Homo sapiens: one gene and its partners. The protein of the gene in region 3 purifies or fractionates together with the protein of the main gene of each other region. This does not show direct contact. Each region holds a gene or a part of one and is shown on either strand. Other genes may lie near its edges.

Evidence for each region.
Region 1: the proteins of IL9R (region 3) and ABCB10 purify together in Homo sapiens (affinity purification with mass spectrometry, with the first as the bait; one large-scale study listed by BioGRID). This does not show direct contact.
Region 2: the proteins of IL9R (region 3) and ZDHHC18 purify together in Homo sapiens (affinity purification with mass spectrometry; 3 studies listed by BioGRID and IntAct, with this or other methods). This does not show direct contact.
Region 4: the proteins of IL9R (region 3) and TMEM39A purify together in Homo sapiens (affinity purification with mass spectrometry; 2 studies listed by BioGRID and IntAct, with this or other methods). This does not show direct contact.
Region 5: the proteins of IL9R (region 3) and TMEM131L purify together in Homo sapiens (affinity purification with mass spectrometry; one large-scale study listed by BioGRID and IntAct). This does not show direct contact.
Region 6: the proteins of IL9R (region 3) and DGCR2 purify together in Homo sapiens (affinity purification with mass spectrometry, with the first as the bait; one large-scale study listed by BioGRID). This does not show direct contact.
Region 7: the proteins of IL9R (region 3) and DHRS7 purify together in Homo sapiens (affinity purification with mass spectrometry, with the first as the bait; one large-scale study listed by BioGRID). This does not show direct contact.

Annotation. Positions count from the first base shown.
Region 1 is NC_000001.11:229,516,082-229,518,394, forward strand, and holds the end of ABCB10 (ATP-binding cassette sub-family B member 10, mitochondrial), read right to left. Parts: coding exon 2,098-2,313; 3' UTR 501-2,097; downstream 1-500.
Region 2 is NC_000001.11:26,825,075-26,829,856, reverse strand, and holds the start of ZDHHC18 (palmitoyltransferase ZDHHC18), read right to left. Parts: upstream 3,170-4,782; 5' UTR 3,053-3,169; coding exon 2,718-3,052; intron 1-2,717. UniProt on the Homo sapiens protein: Palmitoyltransferase that catalyzes the addition of palmitate onto various protein substrates, such as CGAS, HRAS and LCK. Acts as a negative regulator of the cGAS-STING pathway be mediating palmitoylation and inactivation of CGAS.
Region 3 is NC_000023.11:156,007,286-156,011,748, forward strand, and holds the end of IL9R (interleukin-9 receptor isoform 1 precursor), read left to right. Parts: intron 1-237; coding exon 238-322; intron 323-613; coding exon of another isoform or gene 614-850; exon of another isoform or gene 851-2,530; coding exon 2,531-3,124; 3' UTR 3,125-3,532; downstream 3,533-4,463.
Region 4 is NC_000003.12:119,460,474-119,465,548, forward strand, and holds the start of TMEM39A (transmembrane protein 39A), read right to left. Parts: upstream 3,143-5,075; 5' UTR 2,863-3,142; intron 1,676-2,862; 5' UTR 1,602-1,675; coding exon 1,489-1,601; intron 1-1,488. UniProt on the Homo sapiens protein: Regulates autophagy by controlling the spatial distribution and levels of the intracellular phosphatidylinositol 4-phosphate (PtdIns(4)P) pools.
Region 5 is NC_000004.12:153,580,872-153,585,212, reverse strand, and holds part of TMEM131L (transmembrane protein 131-like isoform 1 precursor), read right to left. Parts: coding exon 4,310-4,341; intron 3,807-4,309; coding exon 3,653-3,806; intron 2,024-3,652; coding exon 1,965-2,023; intron 1,650-1,964; coding exon 1,541-1,649; intron 379-1,540; coding exon 282-378; intron 1-281.
Region 6 is NC_000022.11:19,115,323-19,119,663, forward strand, and holds part of DGCR2 (integral membrane protein DGCR2/IDD isoform 1 precursor), read right to left. Parts: intron 1-4,341. UniProt on the Homo sapiens protein: Putative adhesion receptor, that could be involved in cell-cell or cell-matrix interactions required for normal cell differentiation and migration.
Region 7 is NC_000014.9:60,154,906-60,159,246, forward strand, and holds part of DHRS7 (dehydrogenase/reductase SDR family member 7 isoform 1 precursor), read right to left. Parts: intron 1,248-4,341; coding exon 1,095-1,247; intron 1-1,094. UniProt on the Homo sapiens protein: NADPH-dependent oxidoreductase which catalyzes the reduction of a variety of compounds bearing carbonyl groups including steroids, retinoids and xenobiotics.

The DNA of each region.
Region 1 (2,313 bases), on a different chromosome or scaffold from region 3:
TACAGGCTTGTCAAAGTATCAAATGTAACATGCAAACACTCTGGAAACAAAAAAGTGATACCAGAACACAGTGTTACAACTACACCTCTTTATGATCCCTAGCTGCATTCTTGTTATTAATTTTCCCCTGCCTTCCCACTCCTTCAAAACTAGAAGCTCCTTGAGGGCAGAAACTGTGGCTTACTCATCTATCAACTTCACAGCACAGTTCCTTGTCCCTGATGTAGGTAGGAGATACTTATTTACTGCAGTGAAACAATTAAACAATATTTGTAAGTAGCAAACAAGTGATGACATTCAACAAACTTGGTAAGGAGGAATGAATGGAACTTTTAATTACAACATGTTTTTGGATATGTGTAATGTTAGTCTTTTCTTTATTCCTGAATCTCCACAGCCAAATTCTACTAAGAAACAATGTAGTGAGAAGTTTTATAAGAAATGACAGACTGCATCTTTGGTTCCTGGGTCATAAAAAAAAAAAAAGTGACAGACACAGATAAAGTTCACTATAAATTTTAATCTATGATATAAAATATTACCTAAAGATAAAATTGAACATCATGTATCAGAAAATAAAACATAACAATGAAATGCAATTTCGTAAATACTTCTATGGCACAAGGATTATTTTCCTCAGATTCAACCTTGTAATTGTGTTGTTTGCTTTCTGAAAATCACACTTTATAAAGAACACAAGTAGAGCTTGTTAAAAATGATTGTCACAGATGTACTGTTTACTAATTCAAAGAACACTATATTCATTCATATCAATTTTATTCATTAATTATGAACAATAAAATATAATATTCCATGCTTTTCATGAAATAGTGGTTTCTTCTTCCAGTCTAATCAGGGAACTAATAAATGCTTAGTTCATGGGAAAACTTCCATTTGATTTACATTGACTTAATTACTTCTTAGGGTCTAGCCTCATCCATGGAGAAAAAGCACTTTTTCTTGAGGCAACAGCAAATTAACAGCACTGATACAAAATATGGCAAATTCAATGGTTGTAGCATTGCTTTAGGAATTTTGAGACTATAAATAAAACTATAACCATAAATAAAAGGGCTTATTAATATCTTCTTTTCAGGAGAGTGATACATTCTGAAGTTTTCTTGTTATTCTGTTGAATAGCAAGGACTTCCAAACTTAAATGTCTTAAGGCTGAAAATTAGTTATATTCCTCAAATTTTAGCCTTATTAATGAAATTCCAAAAGTATTATAAAATAAGATTCAATTTGTCTTGAAATTATAAATTTGTAACAGATATTTTTCAAAATACATGCCTTCAAACAACTTAAATGCAAAAATCATTCATTCTTAATAATACCTAGCAGTTCATGCCTTGCTTCGCAAAAGTACTCATACAAACATGTGAATTTAAAAAACATGTTTTCCTGTTCAAAAAATAAAGCTTCTGCCCTTTTAAAAACTTGTCAGGCTTTCATGTGCCAAAATGTTGAAAACTGCACATATTCAAACATAGTTCCCATAGGAACACATATTCCTCAGCTCTCACACCTTTGAAGACACAGGAGATGGGCAATATAAATGTTCCCTTCTTTCCAGCTGATGTTAAATAGTTAGGTTTGCTTCATGAGATTATCGGAATAAAGGGTTAAATTTTCAATTTCCATTATTCTATCTGTAAAATTAGACTTAAAAGTAGGTAGAATACTACCAGAAGAATTACACAGTGATTGGTAAACTGGCCTAAAATAATCAGGCTTTTTATTTATAATTGCCTTTTTAAAGTTGTCATTTGACAATAGCTTCAATCTTTAACAGCAGGCAAAAGAAAATGAGGTGCCATGCTATATTAATTAAAATATTCCACAAGAAAAGAAAATACAAAACCTGAAAATAACTTCAGTGCTATAGACATTTAAAAAGTTACAATTATTAAAACTCTGAATAAAAAGATCTTGAGAACAGGTACGTTTCAAAACAATCTTTTACACACTTTGGAAAAAAATAGGTATTTTTCAAATAACTTGATATATGGTTTATGTATTTCATAGTCTCTGAGTTTTTTTTCTGCAACACTGTTTTGCATTAAAGTCTCATATTGTTTACCAGTAATTGCTTCCTTATGCTGAAATAAAACTTTGTTTGTTCATTAGTTTTCTGTATATCCCATTTGGTTTTGAAAGCAGCTCTTCATGTTTTCCATATTCAGTAATTTTTCCTTGGTCAAGAACAGCAACCATATTAGCATTCTTAATGGTGGACAGACGATGGGCAATAACTAACACCGTTCTTCCATCCATCAGTCGATCTAGAGCTTCTTGAACAAGGTACTCATT
Region 2 (4,782 bases), on a different chromosome or scaffold from region 3:
TTGCCAGAGGCTAACAGCTCTCCCAGGCCCACAGCTAGGTTCAAGGTCATCTAGCCAGCCAATGACAGAACTAGGGTTTCCAGCCTCCCAGCAAATACACTGTCAATTAATTCAAATACACTGTCAATTCATTCATTCAATAAGTATTGAGCACCTACTGCATACCAGGTGCGAGTTCTAGGCACTAAGGGTGCAACAGAGGAGAATGTCCTGCTCTCATGGGCAAAGACCAGAAACTAACAAGTATACCATAATATGTCAGGTGGTGGCAAATGCTTCAGAGAGCGATAAATGAGGGGAGAAGAGAGGTGCAGGAGGGGAGTGGTTTGCTATGCTGTGCGGATGGACAGGGGAGGCCTAATGTGAGAGAGTGAGCCATGAGGCCACCTGCAGGAAGGGGATTCCAAGCACTGGCCCAGAGGTAGGAGTGTGCACGGAGGATGACATGCCTGGAGGGAAGACGGGGACAGAAGACAGCAGGGGACAGAGGCCAGGGAGGATTCAGGCCTGAGTTAGAATCAAAAGGGCACTCTGGCTGTTGTGTGGGGGCGAGAAGTAAGGCAGAAGTTGGGAGCCCTGCTGGAGGCCTGTGCAACAATCCACCAAGCCAAACAAAGAAGCAAAGCCATTCATAGCAGGAAAGGCTTAGAGAGCACCTTACCTTTTCCCAGAGCAATGGGGAGCATCCAGTCCAGACCCAGGTGAGCTCTCGGCCCAAACCCAAACTCTTCTGCCAATCTACCAGCCCCCAATGAGGACAAGCGGGGACAAACTGCAACATGGTTCACGAGCTCTCCCCAAACCCAGAAGTCCTTGCTTTCTCCCTCGCTGGGGACAAAACAGTCACCAGTGAAGATACCCGGTCAACCCAGAGAAGGTCCTGCTTCTAGTTCAGAAGTTAGGCCAGATATCACACTGCAGGGTCATGTGGGTCAACCACGGCAAGTACTGCTTCCTCCTGCCTCGGCTGCAGCCCTGGGTGTGGGGACTGAGAGGGCAGCCCAGGGGATACTAGAAAAGGCATTTCCAAAACACTCATGTGGCCAGCCCAGGGAAGTGGATCTGAAACTCAGCCCAGAGCTGAGCTCTGGGCCCCCCAGAGCTTCTGCTTGTAAATCATCCCTGAACTTTTTATCCACCCTACTCAAAAAAAAGGGCAGAGTGTGTGGTTAAAGGGTAAAGGGAGAAGCTAATTTATAGGAAGTCTTCACCTTGCTTCAAGGGGAAACCCAAAGTTGCAGATACATGATCTGGCAGCTAGAAAGGGTACCTGGGGGCGGGTGTCTCTATGATAGCCTTACCATGGCCACATGCCCTTGGGAAGTGTTTTTTGATAAAGACAACACAAGTACTAATAGCAGCCAACATAGTGTGCTTGTTACTGGGCTAAAAGCTTGCATGTGTGACCTCATGCCACCCTCAGGACAACCTTACGGGGTGGGTACTATTATAAATCCCATTTTACTGATGAGGAAACTGGGGCACTGAGGGGGTGAAGTGACTGCCCTGAGGTCACGCAATTAGTGGGTGGTGGAGCTGGGATTTGAACCAGGTCTGTTAGAGTTCTTAACTACACTGTATAATTAAGAGGAACAACCACAAAGGATGGGGAGTTGGGAGGGGACAGCAGGGCTTATGAAGCAAGGGTGGGTGGGTGGGCGTGTGAGTGTGTGTGCAAGGAATCACAGTGCAGGTGGCTCAGAGGTGGGTGGAAAACTTCTAATACAAATATATGACCCTCCATCCATAAAATGGAGATTATGTGTGGGCCAATCCTGGGTCACCGGGGGATATGAAGAGGACAAAAACCTAGGGGGGCAAATATGACCTGTCACACGAAAGCACTCCGAAGTCTTTCCTGAAAAACAACAAGGCACCGCAGCTGTTGCTGATGTGGAACAGGCCAGAGGGACGTTCCAGAATGTTGAGCAGGGAAAGAAAGCCAGGTGGTCAGCAGGGGGGCCAGGGGCCTGGGAGCCGGCTGGGTGGAGGCGGGCGGGATCTGAGGGAAGGACAGGAAGCTCTGGAGAACCTAAGGAAGGTTCTGGAGAAGGAAAGGGGGCCCGAGAGGCCCAAAGATTTTGAGAAAAGATGCCTTGGGGCCTAGGGTGTGCGTGGCTGAGGGGAAGCAAAAGCGGGGTTGGTGTCTGAGACTAGAGAAAAGGAGGGGACCCTGGAGGGACCCGGAGAGGGCAGCGAGGATGACTAGGATGTTTATGGTGGGTGTGCACAGCCAAAGGACACACAAGATCTAGAAGTGGTCAGGAAGGGATACAAGGGTCAGAAAGAACTTGGGGGGTTGGCAAGAGATGGTCCAGGGATGGGTGAGCAGGAGGGGCCTGTTCAAGAAGCCCTGGGGCAGGTTCTGAGAGGGCAGCGAGGATGGGGGCCGTGGAGGGGCATGGAGGCTGGTGTTCCTGGCAGTGGCAGGCAGACAGGTGCCAGGGTGGGGTCAGGGAGAATGGAGGGGCTGGGAGGGTGGAGGGCACCAGCGCGGATGGGGTACCCAAATGGACCAAGGAGGATGGGGCATCTGGCGGGGATGGGGGTGCGCAGGGGCCAGGGGGGCAGACAAGAGGCCCGAGGAGGATCCCAAAGGGGCGGGGAGGATGAGGACCAGGGAGGCGAAGGGGAAGGCACGGAGTGCCCAGCAGGGATTGGGAAGGTGGGGTGCGCGGCAGGGGGCTGGGAGGGGGCGCCGAGGCAGCGGAACTCACTCAAAGACGAAGAAGAGGCCGGTGGTGGTGAGGATGAGCAGCAGCGTGAGCGCGAAGACGCCGCCGTGGCCGGCCAGCATGAGGCGGCCGCCGCAGTAGAAGCGATTGCGACCCGGGAACACCTCCCACTTGCGCCGTGGGCGGCGGCCGAGGCTCCCGCTCCCGCTGCCGCTGCCGCTGCCGCTGCTGCTCCAGCGCGGCGGGGCGGGGGCGGCGGGCGGCGCGGGCCCGGGGCCCGGAGTCGGGGACGCGGCGGGGCCGGGACGGCGCGCCCCCGGGGAGGCGGGCAGCGGGGCGGCCCCGGGGCTGATCTGCTGGTACTCGCAGTCCTTCATGCAGCCAGCCGCGGGCCTCGGCTCCGCGCCCCGCGGGCCGGCCGGGCCACTCCGGGACCGGGCCGAGCAGCGGAGGTGGCAGCGGCGGCGCGCGCGGCGCTCGCTCGCTCACTCACTGGGGCGGCCCCGCCATCGCTCCGCCCCCGGCCCGCCGCCACCGCCCGCCGCGGCCTCCCGCCGCAGCGCCCCCTCCGCCTGGGCCCGGGATGGCGCTTGGCCGGAGGCCCAGCTCTGACCCGCGGCGGGGCCCCGCAGGTCCCCGGCCCTCCCAGTCTCCCTTTTCCCTTCTGCACAAAGAGGGGGCCAGCAGACGCGCACTCGAGGGCTCTTTCTGTTCTGCAAGCAAGCCGTTTGTTGGGCGTCCACTGTGTACCAGGCACGGTGCCAAACGCCGAGATTCAGGTGGTGGACTTCGTGATCTACTTCTGGCAGTCTGTAATTCCCCAGGCTTCGCCCATCTCTGAGGGTCGAACTGACAGGCATTTGCAGAGGCAGGCAGGCGCGGGGAGGTGGGGCACACGATTTGCTTTGAAAGCCAGGACCTCTTCTACCTTGAAGTCCAGAGTGCCCACTGGAGGTGTGTGGCACACCCTCTGGCCTCGTTCACCAAGTTCTGTGTCCTGGGCCCAGGCCCAGATTTTCCTAGGTAGCACATAATGTAGAGGGGTCATGCCTGAGGGCCCCAGTGTTTTTTCAGGAATTCTGGGAGTATTCATTTTCTACTGCTGTGTAACAAGTTACCACAAATTTAAGGCTTAAAACAAACATTATCGGCCGGGCGCGGTGTCTCACGCCTGTAATCCCAGCACTTTGGGAGGCCGAGGTGGGTGGATCACAAGGTCGAGAGAGACCATCCTGGCCAATATGGTGAAACCCCGTCTCTACTAAAAATAAAAAATTAGCTGGGCATGGTGGCACGGCATCTATAGTCCCAGCTACTCGGGAGGCTGAGGCAGGAGAATTGCTTGAACCCAGGAGGTGGAGGTTGCAGTGAGCCGAGATTGTGCCATTGCACCCGGCCTGGTGACAGAGCAAGACTCCGTCTCAAAAAAAACAAAAAACAAACGTTATCTAACAGGTTCCAGGTCAGGAGCCAGAGAACAGCTTAGCTGGGTCCTCTGCTTAGTCTCACAAGGCTGCAATCAGGCTGCATTCTCATCTGGAGACTCAGCCAGGGAAGAATCCACTTGCAAGCCCATTTGGGTTATTGGCAGAATTAACTTCCTTGCGACTGTTTAACTGAAGAGGGCCTGGGATTTTTGCTGGGTGACTGTATAACTGAGGAGGGCCTGGGATTTTTGCTGGGTGTCTGCTGGAGGCCTCTCTCAGGATCCAAAAGCCACCTGCAGTTCCTAGAGATTATCACATTTCCTTGCCATGCAGGTTTCTCCTACATAGCCACTTAGTTTCTTGAAACTGACAATGAGGGTCTCTAGCTCCAGACTATGATGATAGAGTTTTATATAACTTACTATATATGTGACAGAGTGGCATCCCATCATCATTGCCATCTCCTATGGTTAAAAGCAAAGCACAGGAGCCATCTGCACTCAAGAAAAGGGAATCACACAAGGCGTAAATACCAGGAGGCAGGAATCATTGGGGGTCAGCTTAGGGTATGTCTGTCACACTGTGGTTACTGTAAAACCTAAGGAAAAGTGCAAGGAAAAAAAGAACTGGAGACTAGGAGAAAGTAAAAAAGGAAGTAAAAATATACAATGGGGAGGAGT
Region 3 (4,463 bases):
AGCTCACGCTGTAAAGGACGCGCGCCTCAGTATAAATCAGTTCTATGCGGCCGTTAGGCAAGGAGGCCCAGTTGGGTCCTGCCCTGAGAGTGGGTTGGAATGTGATGAGATGGGAGAGAGGCAGTGGCAGGGACGAGGTGGGCGGACCTCCTGCTGATGGAAGGAAGCTCAGCCTCTGCAGTGACCTCAGGCCACCTGGGTCGCCATAGGCCTCTGACTGGCCTCTCTTGGCCTCAGGGTGAAGAGAATCTTCTACCAGAACGTGCCCTCTCCAGCGATGTTCTTCCAGCCCCTCTACAGTGTACACAATGGGAACTTCCAGGTGTGTGCAGAGACCACAGAAGGACATGGGGGGCAGGGGTTGCCCAGAGCTCTGGCCTGCCCAAGATGTTGGCTTTCACTGAGGGTTGGCGGCCAGTATGGGAGGCTTGTCAGTGCTTGGAGCCTTTTTTGTATATTCAGTGAATTTCAATTTATACGCGTATCTCAAATGGGGAAAAATTAGCTTTATTTTCCATTGCTGATTTCTTTTTGTTCTCAGGTCTCTAGTTCCATTGTTGATTGAAAAAATGTAAATTTCTCATAACTTATCTCTGTCCCCTCTGGTTTGCAGCTTTCTGCACCCACCATGTGCCTCACCTCCTCCTTCTGCGAAGGTGTCTGTCCTGTGGCCATGGGGAAGGGTCTGTGGTGTGTGTGCTGCCCTTGGGGCTCTCACTGCCTCTGGGCTCCTGCTCTGCCTGGTCCCCTGGTCTCCCCGGATCACATGATGGCACCACAGCTGAGGAGTGGGCTCTGCACTTCCCCCCCTTCCACCCATGTTGGGCTCCTACAGCCCAGGCACCAGTGAGCAACTTGGGGGTTGCATCAGCCCCTCCCCTCCCTGCTGGGCTGTTGGTTCATGCCCCCTGGGTGGGAGGAGGGGGAGAGGGAGAGCTCCAGTGAGTGGTCTCTGGTTTTTCCCCTCAGACTCCTCACTTTGGGCAAAGGACAAGAGGCAGTGAGGGCCCCTCCCTGGGGTCTGGGCCAAGCTGACCACTCTTCTCCAGAATCTTCCCTCCCTGTCCCCTTCACACTGTGGCTCCAGCTTACTATGCAGAAAAATCCTTTTCTCTCTCAATGAGGAGCGTAGTTTTCAAGATTTTTGTCCAAAAATATAATTTGAACCATGAACCGGGCATCTGGCTCTTGGCAGAGTCTCCCTCTTTCCCCAAGGTGGTAGATGTGACTGTCAGGAGCCTGGGCAGCTGACGACAAGGCTGAGCAGGTCAGATTGTGACTGTCCCCTGGACTGTCATCCTGTTGCGGGCACCAGCTGTTCCCTAGAGAACTAGGACACCTGCCACGGGTTATTTAGACCTGCGGGTGAGGATCTGGTGCCATAGGTTGGTCTCCAGGGAGCACTGCAGTGATGGAGGGTGTTGTGTGTGTGATGCATGGGATGGAGGCTCCTGGTCCCACCAAGGGAACAGCTTCCTTTTGGAGGCGGGGGCCTCCTGTGGCCCCACAGAAGGATCCAGGTCTGCTGGCCATAGCCGAGTGCTTTGAAAGTCACCAGTCCTGACAGCGATTCGTGTGTGTGTCTGTGTGTGTGTGTGTGTGTGTTTATGTGTCTGTGTGTGTTCGTGTGTGTGTCTGTGTGTGTGTTTGTGTGTGTATGTCTGTGTGTGTGTGTTTATGTGTGTGTGTCTGTGTGTGTTTAAGTCTGTGTGTGTTTGTGTGTGTGTGTCTCTGTGTGTGTGTCTGTATCTGTGTGTGTTTGTGTCTGTGTGTGTTTGTGTGTGTGTCTGTGTGTGTTTGTGTGTGTGTGTCTGTGTGTGTGTTTATGTGTCTGTGTATGTTTGTGTGTGTGTTTGTGTGTGTGTGTTTGTGTTTATGTGTGTATGTCTGTGTGTGTCTGTGTGTCTGTGTGTGTATGTGTCTGTGTGTGTTTATGTGTCTGTGTGTGTTCGTGTGGTGTGTGTGTCTGTGTGTGTGTGTTTGTGTGTGTATGTCTGTGTGTGTGTGTGTTTATGTGTGTGTGTCTGTGTGTGTTTATGTCTGTGTGTGTTTGTGTGTGTGTGTCTCGTGTGTGTGTGTCTGTGTGTATCTGTGTGTGTTTGTGTGTGTGTGTGTCTCTGTGTGTGTGTGTGTTTGTGTATGTTTGTGTGTGTGTGTGTGTGTGTTGGGAATGCCCAGTCTCTGCAGCTGCTGAAAGGCCCTGAGGCACATGCTGTCAGGAGCTGGCTCTGTCCTGGGCAGATATCACCATCTGTACCTCGGTTCAGGCTGCCGTGGGCACCAGGCCCTGTGCTGGGGGAGTGCTGAGGAGCCTGAAGGGACTCAGGGTCCCGTGATGAGGCTGGGCTGGCACATGGAGGAAAGACAGAATGTCCAAGACACAGGCGCTGCTTGGCCTCTGGGTGTGGACCTCAGGAGGGCTTCCTGGAGGAGGAGGGATGCTGGGCTTGCCAGAAAGGAGGCAGCTGCTCCCAGGATGAGTTCTGAACATGCTACCTGAGCCCTTCCCTCCTCCCGTGCTCTGTTCCAGACTTGGATGGGGGCCCACGGGGCCGGTGTGCTGTTGAGCCAGGACTGTGCTGGCACCCCACAGGGAGCCTTGGAGCCCTGCGTCCAGGAGGCCACTGCACTGCTCACTTGTGGCCCAGCGCGTCCTTGGAAATCTGTGGCCCTGGAGGAGGAACAGGAGGGCCCTGGGACCAGGCTCCCGGGGAACCTGAGCTCAGAGGATGTGCTGCCAGCAGGGTGTACGGAGTGGAGGGTACAGACGCTTGCCTATCTGCCACAGGAGGACTGGGCCCCCACGTCCCTGACTAGGCCGGCTCCCCCAGACTCAGAGGGCAGCAGGAGCAGCAGCAGCAGCAGCAGCAGCAACAACAACAACTACTGTGCCTTGGGCTGCTATGGGGGATGGCACCTCTCAGCCCTCCCAGGAAACACACAGAGCTCTGGGCCCATCCCAGCCCTGGCCTGTGGCCTTTCTTGTGACCATCAGGGCCTGGAGACCCAGCAAGGAGTTGCCTGGGTGCTGGCTGGTCACTGCCAGAGGCCTGGGCTGCATGAGGACCTCCAGGGCATGTTGCTCCCTTCTGTCCTCAGCAAGGCTCGGTCCTGGACATTCTAGGTCCCTGACTCGCCAGATGCATCATGTCCATTTTGGGAAAATGGACTGAAGTTTCTGGAGCCCTTGTCTGAGACTGAACCTCCTGAGAAGGGGCCCCTAGCAGCGGTCAGAGGTCCTGTCTGGATGGAGGCTGGAGGCTCCCCCCTCAACCCCTCTGCTCAGTGCCTGTGGGGAGCAGCCTCTACCCTCAGCATCCTGGCCACAAGTTCTTCCTTCCATTGTCCCTTTTCTTTATCCCTGACCTCTCTGAGAAGTGGGGTGTGGTCTCTCAGCTGTTCTGCCCTCATACCCTTAAAGGGCCAGCCTGGGCCCAGTGGACACAGGTAAGGCACCATGACCACCTGGTGTGACCTCTCTGTGCCTTACTGAGGCACCTTTCTAGAGATTAAAAGGGGCTTGATGGCTGTTCCAAAGTGTTGATGGCTGGGAGAAGGGGCCAGAGGAGGAGTGAGGGGTGGGGTTTGTCCAGCCCTGGGCTTTCCGGGCTCTAGAGATAGCATGGTGTAGGCTCAATGACAGTTCTGGGGACAGCAAGTTGGAGGTTCAGGGGCAGCTTCAGGACAGCAGGATGGAGGCTCAGGGACAATTCCTGGGAGGCCAGTGCCCTCGTTCCTCCTTGTCCTCATCCTCCCCCTTGCTCCAGGAAACTGAGAGCTGAGCCTGGAGCTTCCAGACAGTCAGTGCTGGGGGTGACCATCCAGCAGTGATGGTGGCCTGTGAAGGGTCCTGCTTCTGTCCTCAGCCTCTCATGGGGTGGGCTTGTGGAGGAGCTGTGGTCTGGAGAGAGTGGCAGTTGGAGCAGAACGTGCCTGCGTTTGTTTCCTAGGGCTGTCGTAACAAAGTGCCACAAAATGGTTAGCTTAGAACCACAGAGATTTGTTGTCTCACAATTCTGAAGTCCAGAAGTTGGAAATAAAGATGTTGGCAGTGTTCCCAACCACATGTTCTTGGGCTCCCATGAAACAGAAGTTGATATTAGGCCAAGGAAGCTTCCCAGACAAGACTTTATTAAGTCTTATGCCCCGAAAGTTTGGGCAGAAGAGAGACGGTGCAGGAGGAAGAATTCTTGGCTGACTCCCCAAGGGGAATGCATTGTGGTGTCTTAAGGAGGGTGACATACATAATTTATGAGCTACATGAGTGTCATTGCACATATGGGGTGGAGCGAAGGGTGCTCAGACGCATGCTAACACATACGTTGCATGATCAGAAAATGGCAGATAAGCCCCTCCCTGGGTGAGGACTTTAGTATTATCATAAGACCAGGGTCATTCTCCTGGCCTTGTGCACAAGCAGGTGATGGAGTCAACTCCCGTCAGTAAGACTTATGGCGGGATGC
Region 4 (5,075 bases), on a different chromosome or scaffold from region 3:
TATTTTACATAGTATCTTAATATTTAAAACACATAGGAAAATGAGTCAGTCTAATTAAAAGAAGACGAGGAAAACTCAAGCCTAGACTGTTAGGCTTGCCTGATCCATTTTCCCTTCTAAGCCCTCCTACAGCAACCCCTGAGACACTGAAGAGGGATTTCATGGGACAGTCTAAGAACATTTTTATCTAGAGAACATAATTATCTAGAGGAATCCTCAAAGCCAAAGTCAAAGAGAACGAACAAAGAACTGCTAGAGTTAGGAGGCAAAGTTAGAATTTTTTAGTTGGCTAGAATCCTAGTTAGGGACAGCTAAGATTTTCTATCACAATTTGAAAGTACTGAATCAATAAGTTGATAGCATATATTAATAAAATTAAGGCATGTACCTCAAAGAGCAAACAACTTTTATCTCAATACCTATATTAGATAGTACCTTTCTTCAAAAGCATTTTCGCATATTCTCATTCTTATTTTTAAGTATATAAAATAATACTTATTTGTAGAAATTTTGTAAAATTCAGTAAAGTTTTTTAAAGTTACTGCAATTTACTACTTCATTTATTTCAACATCCTGCTATGATGCAAACAGTACCATCATTTTTAAAATAAGGAAATCCAACGAACGGCAGAGTAAAAAATACTCTAGCATAAACTAGTTACTCTGTATACATACATAAACAAAACTCGGATTAAAAATTAGTATGAGAATCGGAGACTGGAAAAATCCCTTCAAACTGGAATTTCAGGGAGAGCTCCACTGAAATGATGAGATCAGAACTAATTTTAAAGATTGGGTGGAAGAGGGATTGGAAAGTCAGGAAAAAAAAAGGACAAAGGTCAGGCCTAGAAAACAAAAGTGCATAAATACCATTAGACAGGCCTGAAAATACAGTAGTACTGATTGCTAGCTCTGAAAATTAAAATCAAGACAAGAGAAAAACTTTTTTCAGGGAGGAAGGAGAAATTAGCTGGCAGAAAATATCTTGAGCAAATACTTCATTAGGTAAAAGTATCTCTTTGAACTGCTACATTATCAAACCTCCTGATGGCATGGGCTAACCCAGCTAAAAAACAGCTAACATTTATTAAGACCAAACAATTTTTTGACAATTTAAAATCCTTGATGGAATTTGACTTATAATTTGCCCTCTAAAAAAAGAATGCTTATAAGTAGATAAACCATCACACTTACCTTGTATTTTCATTCACTTCTCCCTTCTTCTAATAGATAAAAAGGGGATAACAAGAATTTAGATGATCAGCCAAAATAAAGAATGGGACTGCTTTCACTTTGTGGGCCCCATTTCACATCTTTTTACCTCCAAAGTATTTTGGAATTCTGAATTTTGTCTTGAAGGGCAGGATTTCTACCACAGTGTCAAGAATAAATCTCAATAAGCAAATATCTGAATGACATGATGACTTTTATGTTAGTCTTACTGATCAAAGGACATTAAAATTATATATAGCCTTATTTTTTCTTTACCTGTTTCTCAAGCCTGTTCCATTGCCACAGCCTCCACCAACCAAAGTCTGCAAAGAAGGTAAAGCTGAACGGCTTAGCTGTTGCCGACTAGGGCCCCTCCTTCCACCGGGCATGTCCAGGAACCAGTCTGCTTCCAGTGCCACCTGTAGTTGCAACCCAGGTTAATGGTTGTCAACCAGTTTCAACTCTGAACGACAACAAAAACATTTAAACATCAGTAGACTATTTTTAAAGTAGGCAACAAAACAACGACAAACACTGAGTAAGCAGGCCTTACAAAATAAGATTTTCAAACGAATGTTCCCAGTGTCTACTACTTACGTTATTCGAATTAAAGGACTACTCAGACTCTAATGGGTCAAAAGCCTAAGTTCTGATCTAAGCTCTGTTCAGCTTTAGGCAAGTGATGATTTGTGTCTTTTGTCAACTGATTTGTATCATCTGTAAGATATTATAATCAAATAGAAGTTTACAAGAAACATCACACCTTATACATTTCCAGCTCAATGTTTCACACTTAAACTACTTGAAATATAGAAGAATTGGCACTTTATAAAACATTAGGTTTTGTTATCAAGGGATATGGCTTGTGAGCTCAGATGGTCACATATTATCTGACCTTATCCGGATAAGTTAACTTCTGAGTGTGTTCTTCTGAGTGTGTTTCTTCAAGGGGGGGGGGCGGGGGGGGGGAGTGTCCCCTGTTCTGCAGAGGTTGTCAGGACTGAGGAAGTGGAATGAAAGGGTACCAGTAGTTCTTTTAACAGTTTAAAAGTAAAACTGTTCGAGTGGTATCTCTATATGTTAGGGTTAAAATATTGAAAGAAACTCTTCAAGGGGATGCCCGCTCCAGAAAAGCTGGTGTAAAATCATACAGAAATTACTGAAACTGCAAGATTAAGAAGCAAGTAAAAGATAAAGATCCTCACTGGAAAAAAAAAAAAAAGCTCTTTTCATCATTCTACGGCAAAAATCATGATTCTGTCAACATGGATACCAATGTTTCCTAAACAATACAACTAAAACCCAAGGATGACACTGGAAAAAACCCGTGTTTTCAAATGCTCCCTATTCCTAACAGCCTTCGGCTGTAAACTAACCCCAAGTCAAACAAAGCATTCAAACCGCTGGATGCAGGGGCTGCTGGTCCTTGCTCCATTAACAAGCAAAGGGAAAGAAAAGTGCAGGGAAAAAACTGGGACGGAAGAGGTGAGAGTATGCGGTGTGGTGGACTGCAGGAGACCACAAACTTCAACAGACTGGTCCCTAAGAGAAGTCGGCAGAAAGGTAGACAAAGCAGTCTCCGCCGCACACCCAAGAGGGCCGAGGCAGGTCCAGGACAGCCGGACCTTGGGGCAGCTCAGTAATACTCACGCATGGAAGAGTCCCAGCCGGTGGGGCGGGGTCCCTAGAAAGCGGCGACAACTTTACAGACTGGACCCCAGGTAAGGGAACTCCCTCCCAGCGTTGGAACGCTGCAAACCAGCTGCTTGGACGCAGGCAGCCCCCGCCTAGAGAATCAAGAAAAGGTGTCCAGGCTTCGGGCTGCCAGACTCAGACCCAGACTCCGACGCAGTTCCAGTGCCAGAGCTAAAGCTAGAGCCAGAGCCTGATACTTCAGCACCCATCCCTAGCCTCCATTACCGCGGAGCTGAGCAGACGTGGCAGCGCACGGCGATGACGTCAGCTACGCGACCGCGGTCTGCCCCAGCCGCGAGTGCGTCCCCGGAATCAGCCGGCACGACAACCCCTACCATTTGCACCTGCGCAGTGGGGCGCGCCTTCTCCTCTTAACTCGCGGTCCCGCCCCTTCCGGCCAGTGTTGGCCAAAGCATTTCCTCTTTCGGCCTCAGTCAGCTAGCGGCTGCTAGGTGCGGGCACCATGCTACTGATCCTTCTTGCTGTCTCTTGGACTCCATGTAGTAACCATGTACAAGTTATCACCGCCATTTTACAGATGAGTGTAGATTAGGAGGTGTCACCTAGGGTCACGTTACTGCTAAGTGAGGGAGCCCAAGTCATGAAGTCATGCGTCAGCATCCAACCCTGCGCTTATTGTTTGCTAAGAACTAGACAGATGCTGTGGTTACAAAGCGAATACCACAAAAGCTCAGAGTCTAGTGGAAGAGAGGCGACACTAAGAAAATACAGTAATTACCATTTGTTACAATATTAAAAGTGTGTCCAAGGTCCAGAGATAGCATGTAACACTAACGAATTCTGTGGGATGGTGGTGATGTCAATACCAAGAAAAGCTTTGCAGAGAGCTTGGGGTTTCAGCCAAGACTCCACAAAGGCATAGGGGCTTTGTGGGAGAATGGCAGTCCTCCTGGAGAAGTGGCAGATAAAAAGGTAAAGATCTGTGAGCAACGTCATCTTGAGTTCAGGAATTGACAATAGTTTGGTATTAGAAGAAGATAAGAGTGTCAAAAGGAGCATTTGTGTAATCTTTCACTCCAGAGATTTTAATCTCCTTAATAGAAAGTTGTTTGTATTGATTGAATGATTAACCTTTATTAAGAATTTTGTTGTGTCAGGCACTGGATTAGTAGCTTTACACATTTCATTTAAATCTCACATTTTGATAGCTTCTACTATGGTTATTATTTTACAGAAGAAACTGAAGTTAAGAGAAGTTAAGTAGCTTGTTGAAAATAGCCTGCCTGGCCAGGCAGGGTGGCTCATGACTGTAATTCCAACACTGGGAGGCCAAGGCAGGAGGATCACTTGAGCCCAAGAGTTTGAGACCACCCTGAGCAATATAGTGGAACCTTGTCTCTATGAAAAAAGTAAAAAAATAAATCGGGCATGGTGGCTCACACCTGTAGTCCCAGCTACTTGGGAGGCTGAGGTGGGAGGATCACTTGAGCCCTGGAGGTCAAGTTTGCAGTGAGCCGAGATTGTGCCACTGCACTCCAGCCTGGGCAACAGAGAGAGACCCTGTCTCAAAAATAATAATAATAATAATAGAAAAAAAAGAAAATAGCCTGGCTAATAAGAGCCAGAACCAGAATTTAGAGCCAGAATGACTGATATCGAAACCAGTAAAGTTGCTAATATTCCCAAATATTCCTAATGTCCTAATGTACCACAGAGCTGTCACTTAGGAATACACACAAGTCTCCAACTTAGGATGGTTTGACTCACAATTTTTCAACTTTATGATGGTGCAAAACCAACACTCATTCAGTAGAAACTGTACTTCCAGTACTCGTACAACCATTCTGGTTTTTTTTTCATTTTTAAATACAGTCATGTGTCCCATAATGATGTTTCAATGAAAGACCACATAAATGATGGTGAGCCCATGAGAGTATAATAAAACTGAAAAACTCCTATTGCCTAATGATGTAGCTGTCTTTATGTTGTAGTGCAATGTATCCTGGTGTACACAAACCTGCACTACCAGTTGTATAAAAGTATAGCACATACAATTATGTACAGTATAACATACTAAATAATGATAATAAATTACTTTGTTACTGGTTTATATATTTACTATACTATACATTTATTGTTATTTTAGATTGTACTCCTTCTACTTATTTTAAAAAAATGAAAGTTAACTGTAAAACAACCTCAGGCAG
Region 5 (4,341 bases), on a different chromosome or scaffold from region 3:
AACCTGAAGCCAACTCAGAAACACCATGTGAATATGTACTCTTTTCACACATCTGGATGCCTGATGCTGAACCTATTTCATAAACTGAATTATTTCACTTCCTTTTCCCCACTCAGCTAATATCCCTTTCACTGCCTGTTAGCAATGCTAAGGCAAGGGGAGGCAAGGCCAGTGAGAGAGAGAATCACACAAATCATATCACTATATTTTTAAACCATTTCTAGAGGGGAAAACAACAACAACAACCATACAAGATTTCAGGGAAAGTGGAAGTAACCTACCCCTGAGCCACAGAAGAGAAGAGGCATGCTTTTAGTGTTGGAGTGTGTGTTGTTTTCTTCACATCTTCTATAATTCCACTGTCACATGATGTAGCTGCTTTGTGGTATAAAGAAATAAATGTGAAGCTTAAGTACCTTTTCTTTCATTAAGCCTGAACAAAAGATATATGTCTTATTTATAAATTTTTATTCACTTTTCTGTCTCCATTAAAATAGTGAATCAGACATAAAAGGTAACTACTTTCTCAAATGTTCCTGTCATCTTCTTTGTTGCCAATTATCCAGAAGTCCATACTTTTAAAAACCAACTTCTCTACCAGAAATGACAAAAGTGAAACAAGAAGCTCACTTGGCAGAGTAAAATGTGTGGAGGCACGAGCAAGAAAGGAATAAAACCTAAAGAGCAAAAGGGAGCTGACCAGCAAAAAGTGGGCTGCATTTGAAAGCAGTGCTGATTGATCAAAATAATACTTTTAAGCTCTCCTTGATTAGGTTATAATATTGAGTCGCTTGTGTTCAATTCTTAACTCTCTGATGCTAATAACCAACTTTTTTAAAGTTATATATATGGTTTTTAAAAATTCAAACACTAACAAAAAAATGTGAAAATAAAATCTACCTTTCTTCACCCTGACTCCCAATTATCTTGGAGGAGGCAGCTGTTAGCAGTTTCTGCAACATCCTTCCAGGTGTTCTGTGCATGTATAAGTACACAGATATCCTCTAAAAAAAAATTAAATGTACACACACTGCTCGCATCGCTGTCCATGCATGTTTCTGAACACTCTCTCACATCTGAACACAGATGATCAGCTGTTCTGTCCTAACAAACACACATTTCTTATAGGTACAGTTTTGAATACATACATATCTGGAGGATAAACTCTTAAAACTAGAATTAAGGATCAAAGAGTAAATATGTGCATTTTAAATTTTCATAGAGATTTGCCAATTTTCCCTCAAAAACAGCCTGCATAGACTCCTGTCAAAAACCTAACAGTGCTTTCCTTCCTAATCGTTATCAACACAGAATATTAAGCTTTAAACTCAAAATTCTACATATGTGGCAGAATAAAAGTGGCATCAACAATAGTTTCTACATCATACTATCTTAGAACTACTAAGGCTGGGACTTCTTGAAATCAAACGCATTCCCTTCACTTTTTTGAAACCATGCCTAATCTGTAGTTGTAGAAAGAGTTGCCATCATGACAACCAGATAACAAAAGTCAAATGACAATCTGTTTAAAAATCTGTACCTTTGCAGGTAAAAGAAGCAATTTTTGTAAAGTTTGTTGTAGAAGTAGGTAGTAGTACTGGTTCAAACTGCAGAGACAGAGCATCTCTCTGTGAGAAATGGCGTATATCCTGAAATAAAAGAAAAGTCCCATGTGACTACTCTCAGCTGGGAGAGTATTTATCCAGTTTGAATGAACCGTTAGAATAAATAGCACAGACCAGCCATACATAGCAACTGCTCAGCATCTGTGCCATAACCATATGGAGGGGATGCTGACAATCTTCATACAAACAGAGGTTCAAGCAAGGGCAAATGGGCTTAAATTAAAGCAAAAAAGAATAAAGATAGTGCTTCTGTCTCTGTTCCTGAAAAACCCTCATATTCTACAATTAAATGCACACTTGCAATTTTAAAAGTTACTTTAGGTAAGCATTTACAATTACCTGTATCCATATAAGGCTGTTTCCTGAATGTAATATATACATATTTACTGCTGAATCATCTGTCCAAAAGAATCAGAGTATTAAAGCAGAGTATTTAATCAGAGATTAAAACAGAGCCATCTCATTCTCACACCTTCATATAATCATTAAAATACCACATTACACATTTCTATAAAAAATGTTAACTTGTTTCTCAAAACTGAAATCAAAACTAGGAGGTGTTTTCTTTTTTTTTTTCTTTTTTAATCACAAGAAAAAAGATCCTCATAAAAATGCCTACCAACCTAAGCCCTCTAAATGATGAGGAACTACCAGGAGCAAAATTCTGAGTTTAGGGTCACACAATGCTCTTCTGAATGAAACTAACCAACTGGACGACTTCAAATAAAGCTATGTTCTCCTGTTGATTAGAAAGCTCCTCATTTCCTCATTTGGATAACCACATTTGGAAAGAAGAAAATCCTGAGATCTCAGGTTTCAGGCTTCCTTTTAGCCCTCACCCACAGAAGTGGTCCCCATGGGTCAGGGATCTGCCCTCATAGATGTTCACTGGCCACTATGAGAATCACCAAGCACTGAGGACAGGAGAGCTCTCCTGCTGATCCAGCACTACCACAGCCAGCTCTGAAGACTGAAAGGTAAAGGCTGTTTAACCAATTAAGACTGCCAAAGCAGGGCACGGTGGCTCATGCTTGCAATCCCAGCACTTTGGGAGGCCAAGCGGGGAGGAATGCTTGAGCCCAGGAGTTCAAGACCATCCTGAGCAACACAGGGAGAACCTGTCTCTACAAAAAAAAAAAAAAAAAAAAAAAAAACAACAAAAAAAAACGGTTTAAATTAGCCAGGCATAGTGGTGTGCGCCTGTGGTCCCAGCTACTTGGGAGGCCAAGGTGGCAGGATCGCTTGAGCCCAGGAGGCTGAGGTTGCAGTGAGCCGAGATCACATCTCTGTGCTCCCACCTGGGCTACACAGCAAAATCCTGTCTAAAAAAAACAAAAACAGAAACAAAACCAAAAAACAAACAAAAAAACCCAAAGAATAAAAACCATACTTTCTTGAATATGAATACAAATATACAGTCACATTCAGAAGTCTTGATAACCAAAAGATACTAGTATACTCTACGTTAGGAATTTCATGGATCACAGAATGTGTCTCTGAAAAAAGTTCTTAGGAAGTTAAACAGATGAATGCATTTATTTCTGATAAGTAGGACACACATTTCCAAAGATAAAATTCATAAAACTGAACACTAAAATTCTACCTAACTTGTCAAGCATCCAGGAACAACCGCAACCTATTAGCTATTTAAAATACAAAACAGCATGATGTGGTTAAATGAGCTTAGGCAAATCATTAAAAGTGGAACAAGAAACCCAAGACTTCAAATACTTTGTAAATATTTATATTAAACTGTCATGCCCATTTAATTTCCTTACTGTCTCCAAACATGAAGAAAAATTATTCCTAAGGAAACTCAGAATAGTTTGCAGTTGTCACTTCTCCCCAAAATAATACAGCCTTCTTAGCAGTTGTAGGTTGAGAACCAGTTACTACTACAATCACTTAATAATTAAAGCAAAGGCTATTTGTCTTGGTTTGCTATGATACAATCTGTTCATAAATGCTATAGAATGATGATGCAGACTGATGAAAATATAATAAAATTTTTAAACATTCCACCTTACCTGAGGTCTCAGATTCATCTGTAGCTACGTAAACAATAGAGAGATGATCTAACAAATGTTGTGTGTTTTCTTCAAATTCTTTTGAAAAGTTTTCCATTGTTACCATTATGCTCATTTGTAGACGCAAAACATCATCAGATTCCAGATAACAACCCTATGGTTGGAAGGAGGAGGAAAAAAGGAAAAAAAAAATCATCTCAACTTTGTGGTTTCAAACTATGGAGGAAAGGAGAAGCATTTAACGTAATGGGACGTGTGTGAGAACAGAATATGCTGTTTTGTGTTTTATTTTATTTTATTTTATTTTGAGACGGAGTCTCACTCTGTCACCCAGGCTGGAGTGCAGTGGTGCGATCTCGGCTCACTGCAAGCTCCGCCTCCCAGGTTCACGCCATTCTCCTGCCTCAGCCTCCCAAGTAGCTGGGACTACGGGCACCCGCCAGCACGCCTGGCTAATTTTTTTGTATTTTTAGTAGAGACGGAGTTTCACCGTGTTAGCCAGGATGGTCTCAATCTCCTGACCTCGTGATCCACTCGCCTCGGCCTCCCAAAGTGCTGGGATTACAGGCATGAGCCACAGCGCCCAGCCTTGTGTTTTATTTTTAAGCAAAGAGGCAGGAGGAAAGCAGAGAGAAAACACTACACATTTTATTTTACCTTTAATTGCTGACACACTTTATTATGTAAAC
Region 6 (4,341 bases), on a different chromosome or scaffold from region 3:
GGGCAGCTGGTGAGCTTCAGTGAGGATCCACATTAATGAGAAGCCACACTTGCTCTCACCTCTCAGCTCAGCTCCCATCACAGAAGCAAGCTCCTACCAGGGTGGGGCCCAGGCCAGCTGGCTCCACAGCCATGTCCCCTACCCCCGGATCCCATCCTCCCAAGGCATTTTTGCAGGACTGCCACAAGGCTCTCATCCTCCTCGCCACCCCCACCAGAGGCAGCTGCAAGGCCTGCTGGCTAAAGTAGCTGTTGCTCTTTATGTCAAAATATAAATAGGCATTTGTGCATTTGTTCAATAACTGATTTCTGAGTGCCCAGTCTGTGCCTGACCAGGCCCAGGTGACAGAGCATGAATGTGACAAAGAGCAAAACGTGTATGAACAATCCCAGCCCTGTCCAAAGCACCATGGCTGTTTCGGGGGCTCTCAGCAAGTCATACGCAGTCCCTCTGATCCCATCATAACAGCAAAGAGCACTCTCTGTGTGGCAGACACTCCTCAGAGCCACTGTACTCTGCCACCTCCTGAGGGAGCTCTCTCCCGACCAATAAGCCCTGTGCACAAACCACCTCACATTTCACATTTCAGTTCAGGGTTCCTGAACTCTATCTGTGATTAACACTAACATTTTGCCTGATGAAGAGTTTGCTTTATGTCAGACACTTTTTAGAATTTTATACTTACCCATTTTAATCCTCACAACATCTCTATAAAGCTCTGTTACGATGTCCATGTTCCAAATGAGGAAACTGAAGAGTGAGCAGTAGAACAGATTGAGCCTAGGCAGTGTGGCTCTAGAGCCCATGCTCTTAAGCCACCATACCCAACTGCCTGCCATGGGCCAGGATGAGAAGGCTTGATCTAATCCCAGCTGCTACTTTTACAGACAGCTCATTTGAGGCAAAACCAGACCTGAGCTTCCCCATCTCCCAGGAGGATGCCCAGAAGGTCCAGGGCATCTGGGTCCACAGGCTATTCACCCTCCAACCTAGACTTGCCCTGCCAAGCCCGCCATGTCCACACTGACAGGACACACAGCTTGGAATGGCAGGATGAGATGGACTGGCTTTGACTAAACTTCCCAGGACAACTGGTAAATCATGTCAGAAACACAAATACAGGTGTTACACAGCTATCACATAATAACCATACCCAAGCCCATGCATCACTCTGCTCAATGAACTGTTGGCCCAAAACTGGTCTCTCGGGATTACCGAGCCCACTCTGCAGACTGGCAGTGAAAGAAAGGAAAGAGGACGGTCATCAAAACCTCAGCACCCAAACATAACAGCACATAAGAGAAAATCTAATAGCATACCAAGGAAAAGACATCTAATCAGTCAAGAGCTATCTACGGGGTCCTTAAATGTTGTCACTGATGCATTCCACTTAGAGTCAAGAAACTACTAAATGCCAATCGGGTCGTCCTTATGCCAACAACCAAGAGAGGCAGAGGAACTCCCTGCCTGTCAAAGGCTCAGGTCCAGCAGGAGAGAGTCAATAACTAGATCACCTGCCATCAGTGTTGAGAGGATGCATGCACTACTAGATCACCTGTCATCACTGCTGAGAGGACATGCACACAACCGGATCACCTGCCACTACTGCTAAGAGGAAACATGCATAATGAGATCACCTCCCATCACCTCCCATCACTGCTAAGAGGACACCTGCACAACCAGATCACCTCCCACCATGGCTAAGAGGACACGTGCACAGCTAGATCACCTGCCCTTACTGCTAAGAGGACACACACAGATCACTCACCTCCCATTACTGCTAAGAGGATCTGTGCGTAACAAGATTACCTGCCGTCACTGCTAGAAGGACACCTGCACAAACAAATCACCGGCCACCGCTGCTAAGAGGATATAATCACTCAGTACTCTGGGAAGTGGGAAGGAAGGGGTGGGGAAAGTGCCCACAAGCTAGCTTGGGAAGTGGAGCAGCGAAGGCGCAGCCTAACACAGCACAAATCTTCCACAACAGCAGTCTTCATTCCTAAACCCAGAACCGCCAACTAAAACAATAACCCTGACATGCAGTGATGCCAGCTTGCCTCCACCTGGGCCAACCTGGGCTTTAACTACAGGGCTTCCTGCACCCATGAGACCTTCCCACGTGACACAGGGCTTGGCACATAGCAGGTGTTAGTGAGAACGATGGGGTGGGGTTAAGTGGGAGCAGCCTCTACTCTCTGCAATGGTTAACATGTACAAGGATAAACGGCCATGGCGCATACAACTTATTCTCAAATGGTTCAGAAAAAAGCAATGTGTGTGAGTACACAGATATGCACATACACATGGAAGATGAGGGATAAGGCAAATAAGGTAAAATGCCAACAGTAGGGAAGCCTCAGCAAAGGATATGCAGGTGTTCTCTGCACTCACTTTACTCTTGCAACTTTTCCGGGAGTTTGAAATTATTTCCAAATAAAAGTTTTCTTTTTGTCAAGAAAAAAAAGGAAAATTCATTAGCTAGTGAAGGTAGAAAGTATATTACATCACTTTCCAACTAAAAAAAATGAACCTGTTAACCCAAAAGCCAAATCTACCAGTGGACAAACTCTACAAAGTGTCACAGTACTGGCTACAGAGGAAAGCACTCCAAACTCAGGAGGATTTGGCAAGGCTAGGTGCAAGCTCACCTCTCCAGCTACTTCTGAACCTCGGTCACTTTTCCTTGTGATGAAAATATGCACTCTCTCCCTATGCACCAAACCCCTGTGCTACTTCACATGAAAGAAAACTCTGGACTCCAGCCGGGGAGAGGTGGCTCACACCTGCAATCCCGTAACTTTGGGAGGCCAAAGCAGGTGGATCACTTGAGCCCAGGAGTTTGAGACCAGCCTACATGGCCAACATGGTGAAACCCCGTCTCTACTAAAAATACAAAATTATCCCAGCATGGTGGCGTGCGCCGTAATCAAAGTTACTCTGGAGGCTGACACAGGAGAATTACTTGAACCCAGGAGGTGGAGGTTACAGTGAGCTGAGATCCCGCAACTGCACTCCAGCCTGGGTGACAGACAGAAACTCCATCGCAAACAAAAAAAAAAAAAAAAAAAAAAAACAACTCTGGACTCCAGAGCCAAGGTGCTGTGTTCACTTCTCAGCTCCCTGAGATGTGATCAGCTCAGCACAGCTGCCTACTGAAAGCAAAAGAGAAAGAACCCTGAGCTAGCAGCCAGCTCCACCTGGGTCTGAACCCACGCTCTGCTGCTCACCAGCTGTGTGACCTTAGACAAGTCACTTGCCTCTCCCAGCTAGCTGTACCAACAATAGAAGGAAGACGACCTTCTAGTCCTCTACCTTACCAAGGGGCCTAGCTGAGCACAGGCCCTGTACAGGACCAACAACCAGCAGGAAGGGACCAGGGTGCACCAGCATTCAGAAGGCAATTTTTTCTCAGCTATGTATGGTGGGTTCAACCTGGATAGAGCTGTGGCTCATGATATAATTTTGTTTCACAATTAAAGCTAGAAAGAAAAACAGTTTTAGAATCAGCAGTCGATGCTGCCTTCTCTACACAGATGGAGAAAGGGCCAATGAGACAGTATCACAATCAGTGGTCCCCAAATCCCCCCACCATCTCGCTGTCAGTTACCTCAGCAGTAGTCTCCAACCGTTCTTCCTCATCACACCCCCAGTGATCATAACACACATCATCAGTGGTCACATGGCCAAACACAGAAGGGATTTGGCAGAGGGTGAGTGGTTCTGTCCCTCAGACTGGAGTATCCACATGGAAAAAGATTCTGCACCCTCACCTAGAGGACCCTGGGACCTAACAGGGGACAGAGGCAGTCTGTGGCTCCACCTGGGGTTAAGGAAGCTGTTCAGAGCATAATATGAGGTACTCCTGTGGCTGGGCTGGAGACACACAGTTGGAGTGCACAGACCCCAGTCACGGGTGCATGATGGGGGGAAGGCCAGACTCCTACGATGAAATCTCATCTCAGCCTTAGCTTCATGAGTGCTCTGGATTTCAGCTTCCCCATCTTTAAATGAGGCTAAAAACAGCATCTAGCAGGGACCTCTTGAGAGTTAACATATGTTAGTGCTTAGAACAGTGTCCGGCACATGACACATCTTAAATCAAGTTCAAATGTGCACTTAAAAAAAAATTGCTGGGCATGGTACCTCAGGCCTGTAATTCCAGCACTTTGGGAGGCCAAGGCAGGTGGCTCACCAGAGGTCAGGAGTTCCAGACCAGCCCGGCCAACATGGCAAAACCCCATCTCTACTAAAAATACAAAAATTAGCCGAGCGTGGAGGCGTATGCCTGTAATCCCAGCTACTCGGGAGGCTGAGGCAGGAGAATCGCTTGAACCAAGG
Region 7 (4,341 bases), on a different chromosome or scaffold from region 3:
AAAAACACAAGAGGCCTTTGAAAGCAGTATCATGAAAGAGGCCTGTTGCCCTGCTGAGCACTACTGTGGCAACTAACTCTCATTTCTGGGTGGTTAGCTCGATCAGCAAAGTTAAAGATTTAAAAGAATGACAGGTAGAGAGATGGCCCAAAAAATGGTCTGTTGGAAAATTCAAAATTATCTCAGTTTAGGTACTATTAATAAATGTTCCATGAAAAATAATAACTTTATACTTGAAGTTGCTTTCAATGTGAACATAATGGCTGGGTGCGGTGGCTCACACCTGTAATCCCAGCATTTTGGGAGGCCGAGGCAGGCAGATCACCTGAGGTCAGGAGGTCGAGACCAGCATGGCCAACATGGTGAAACCCCGTCTCCATTAAAAATACAAAAATTAGCTGGGTGTGGTGGTGCACGTCTGTGGCCCCAGCTACTCAGGAGGCTGAGGTACAAGAATCGCTTGAACCTGTGAGGCGGAAGTTGCAATGAGCCAAGATCACACCATTGTACTCCAGCCTGGGCAACAAAGTGAGACTTCATCTCAAAAAGAAAAAAGTAAACATAACTACACCAAAATTCAAACAAAAATATTAACACTGTTGCCCTTTATGTGAATATGAAAGTATTACCTCAAGTTGTATTTTTTAAAGCTAATTCCATTCCTGTTCTTTTATCCTATATAATAAGTCTTATCCCATATGATTTTAATATCTGATACTTTAATAAAATGAGTAAGGATTCTTCCTAATTTCTATGATCAGATACATGTATGTCATGGATAAGAACCCAACTGTTTTTTCTCTAAGACAAAAATCTAAGATACTTGGTCACTAAAAATCCACCAGCATTTTATATAATTGTTGGTCACTCCCTAATGCCAAGAGTCAGTGCAAAAAAAGCATAGAAAGGTGGCAGAAAAGAAGAAAAAGGCGAGGGCAGCCAATTAAGGCAAAAAGGAGAGGAACTGAGATGAAGCATGTAGAACATTTGGAGCCGGGGGGAAATCTCACTCCTCTCTAAAAGTCCCAAAACTGTATTTGAGTTTGGACTGATTTATTTCTAGGAAGCACCGCTGCTATTTCAGATCCGCTTACCTAGGCATCTTCTTTTCACCCTTTCCAGCTCATGCACTCTTCTGGCTGACAGCACAAGAGAAACTCCTAGTTTAGACAACTGGTAAGCCAGCTCCTCACCAATTCCACTCGAGGCTCCAGTCACCCACACCACCATATCAGTCAGCTCCCATTCTATGGAAGGAATGTAAATGGAAGGAAGAAAATAAGCAATGAATTACGCTCATAAATCCAAGATTAGAAAAAAAAAAGAAAGCCTTAAACAATACCACTAAATATGAAGGCATGATGTATAGAGTTAAAATTTGAAATATTCTAAGAAAGCATCTCCTTCTTAACTAAAAAAAAAAAAAAGCATTAATACAAATCATACTAGTAACAGTTATCAACACAGTATTTGTATATTACAGAACCTTCATGACTTTTCCAGACTTTACTTCAAGGTAAGCCTTATAACCTCATGGTTTCACTCTAAGGCTCTATTTAACACAAACAGGTAAGATAAATATGATAGATAAGATAAACAGGCTAAGTAAATACAAAAATCACTGTCTGGACTCACTTTTCCTTAGCCATTAAATGAGGCATTCAGATTAGATGATGGCTGAAGGTCACATCCAGTTTTTAATTCTATTATTCTAATATTTTGCAATGGAGGTTGATGAAGAATCTAAATATACCAAGTTCTGTGCTGTTGATGGAAACATCCTAGATTTTTAAAGTAGTATTTTCCCCATTTGCCAATAATGCCTGATGCCTATCAGCTCAAGGTCATTTTGTAAAAATGTTCCCCAGATGCCTGAGCTTTCATCTTAGGAGAATATAGTAATTCACCCAAGAACAAATGCATATTACAGAGAGATGAAATATTGTACTCTGCTTCTCCAATTATGTTCCTCTTAAAAGACTACAAATGTTACAGTACTAAAGCAATGACAAATGGTTTATTCTTTTCTCCAATGAAAAACTTATTAGCACTTCAGGAGATGATATTCACTGTCTCTCTGAACCCGTAAAGTCACTGTTATGCAAAGTTCCTGGGTGACTTATTTACTAAAATATATGTTATTTATCAAAAATATCAAATATCGTATCACTTAACATCACATTTCCGATTTTAGATCAGAAAAGTTAAAATCAGGAAATGATTGTACTGTTTTAAACAGCTCTAAATCCTAACTGTGATGTTAACAGTACCATCCCTGGAGACTGCCAGGGTTCAAATGCCAGCTCCATCACACACAGCACTGAAATGCTCCCAGGTGAGAACTTGGTGCCTTAATTTTCCACAACTGGAAATGTGATGAATAAGAACACATCCTTCACAGGATTGTTGAGAAATGAGTTAAAACATGGAAAGCACTCAGGGCAGTATCTAGTACATACTCAGTGTTTAATAAACGTCAATTATAATTATTGCTCAAGTTTTTTAACAGATGGACTTTACTACAGCAAAACATAGAACAGTCACTTAATAACGTATGTCTCCTAACTTCTCCAGCCAGGAAAACAGAGTTACCAATTCTAATGGCTTAACGTTTTTACATTACTTCCTATGTACTTAGCACATTGTCTACTAAAAGCCTCACCAGAACTGTATGGAAAGGTATTATTATCTCAGTTTTACAGAAAAGGTAACTGAGGTTTACAGAGATTAATTTGTCCCACTAGACCATAGATTCCATTAAGGGTAGGACCCTGTCTACCTTGTTCATTGCTGTGGCCTCAGTGCTTAGCAAAGACTGGAATATTGAAAAGGCTCCATAAATAACTACTGAATAAACACCCAAGAACCCTGGCAGAGCCGGGATATAAGCCCAGGTATATCTAGCTCCAAAGCCCACACTGTCCACTATTTCATGATATACACATTTACATATGATCAATATTTTAAAACCCAACTGTTTCTTAGACATTCAAGAAAATACCACTTGTCCTTAAGAAAAAGGTTCCATGTAAATATCTCAACTAAGGCCAGGTACGGTGGCTCACATCTGTAATCCCAGCACTTTGGGAGGCCAAGGCGGGCAGATCACTTGAGGCCAGGAGTTCGAGACCAGCCTGGCCAACATGATGGAACCTGTTCTCTATGAAAAATACAAAAATTAGCCAGGTGTGGTGGCGCATCGTTGTAACCCCAACTACTCAGGAGGCTGAGGTGCAAGAATTGCTTGAACCTGGGAGGCAGAGGTTGCAGTGAGCCAAGATTGCTCCACTGCACTCCAGCATGGGTGACAGAGTGAGACTCTGTCGGAAAAAAAAAAAAAAAAAAAAAAATCTCAACTAAGGATGGAAACATCCCAAATACTATGTCTGGGCTACAATGCTTTCCTGTCATATAACGTACTTTTGTGAAAAGGCACAATTGGGCCACCTTCCTATAGGACTTTATCAAGAACAACATAACATCTATTCAGATAATCATTTATTCATTCATTGACTACTTGTTGTTCCCAAGTTCTGCAATCATCACACTCTAGAGTGAATATCATTTGTTTTAGAAACACAGGATTTACTAACTAGTGTCGAGCTAACAAAGACCTCTTGATATTTACACACATAAGCAAATATTTAAAGCTGATGGTGTAAACTTTTAATACAATCACAATTCTGGCCTCTTCCTCCCACCCTGAAGAAACTTTTTTATTTAGCACCGTTTGTTTCCCGATTCCACAGAATCTGGTATACATAATGGCCTCCCTTTAAGAGCCCCTGAAAGTAGATTCTTAAGAGTTGAAAGGAAAGTGATAGTTCAACCCCCACTCCAGTTTGAGAATTCTCTTCTCAAGCCCTTGACCCATCTCTAATTCCCTCACAGGATGAGGAAGCTAATTATCTCTGAAGGCTTCAGCTCCTTTTTTGGGAAAGTCTAATCATTCCAGGGATCTTTTTTATACTGATATGATAAGCTTTTAAATGCTATCAACCAGTAGCAGTGGGCAGTAATCCTGCCTTGTGGTTTGACAAAGAAGAAATCAAACTTCTGGTGTCGGTGGGTCCAAGTGTCCAGCCTGAGGCATCCTCCCCATCCCTTCCTCTCCCAGCACCTCAAACATTCATCAAGGATTTTGTATCCAAGGCCCAAAAGTTTGTTACCCAAGACGACAAATATTGACATGGATGCAGTTGATGCTGAAAATCATTTGGAATTGGAGGGAAAAACACAGCTTATTAATCAAGTGTTGGAACCCCAACATACACTTCAAGATCTCCCTGTCAGAGGAGATGCGGTTACGGAAGAAAATCTCAAGCTAAAATCAGAAAACCA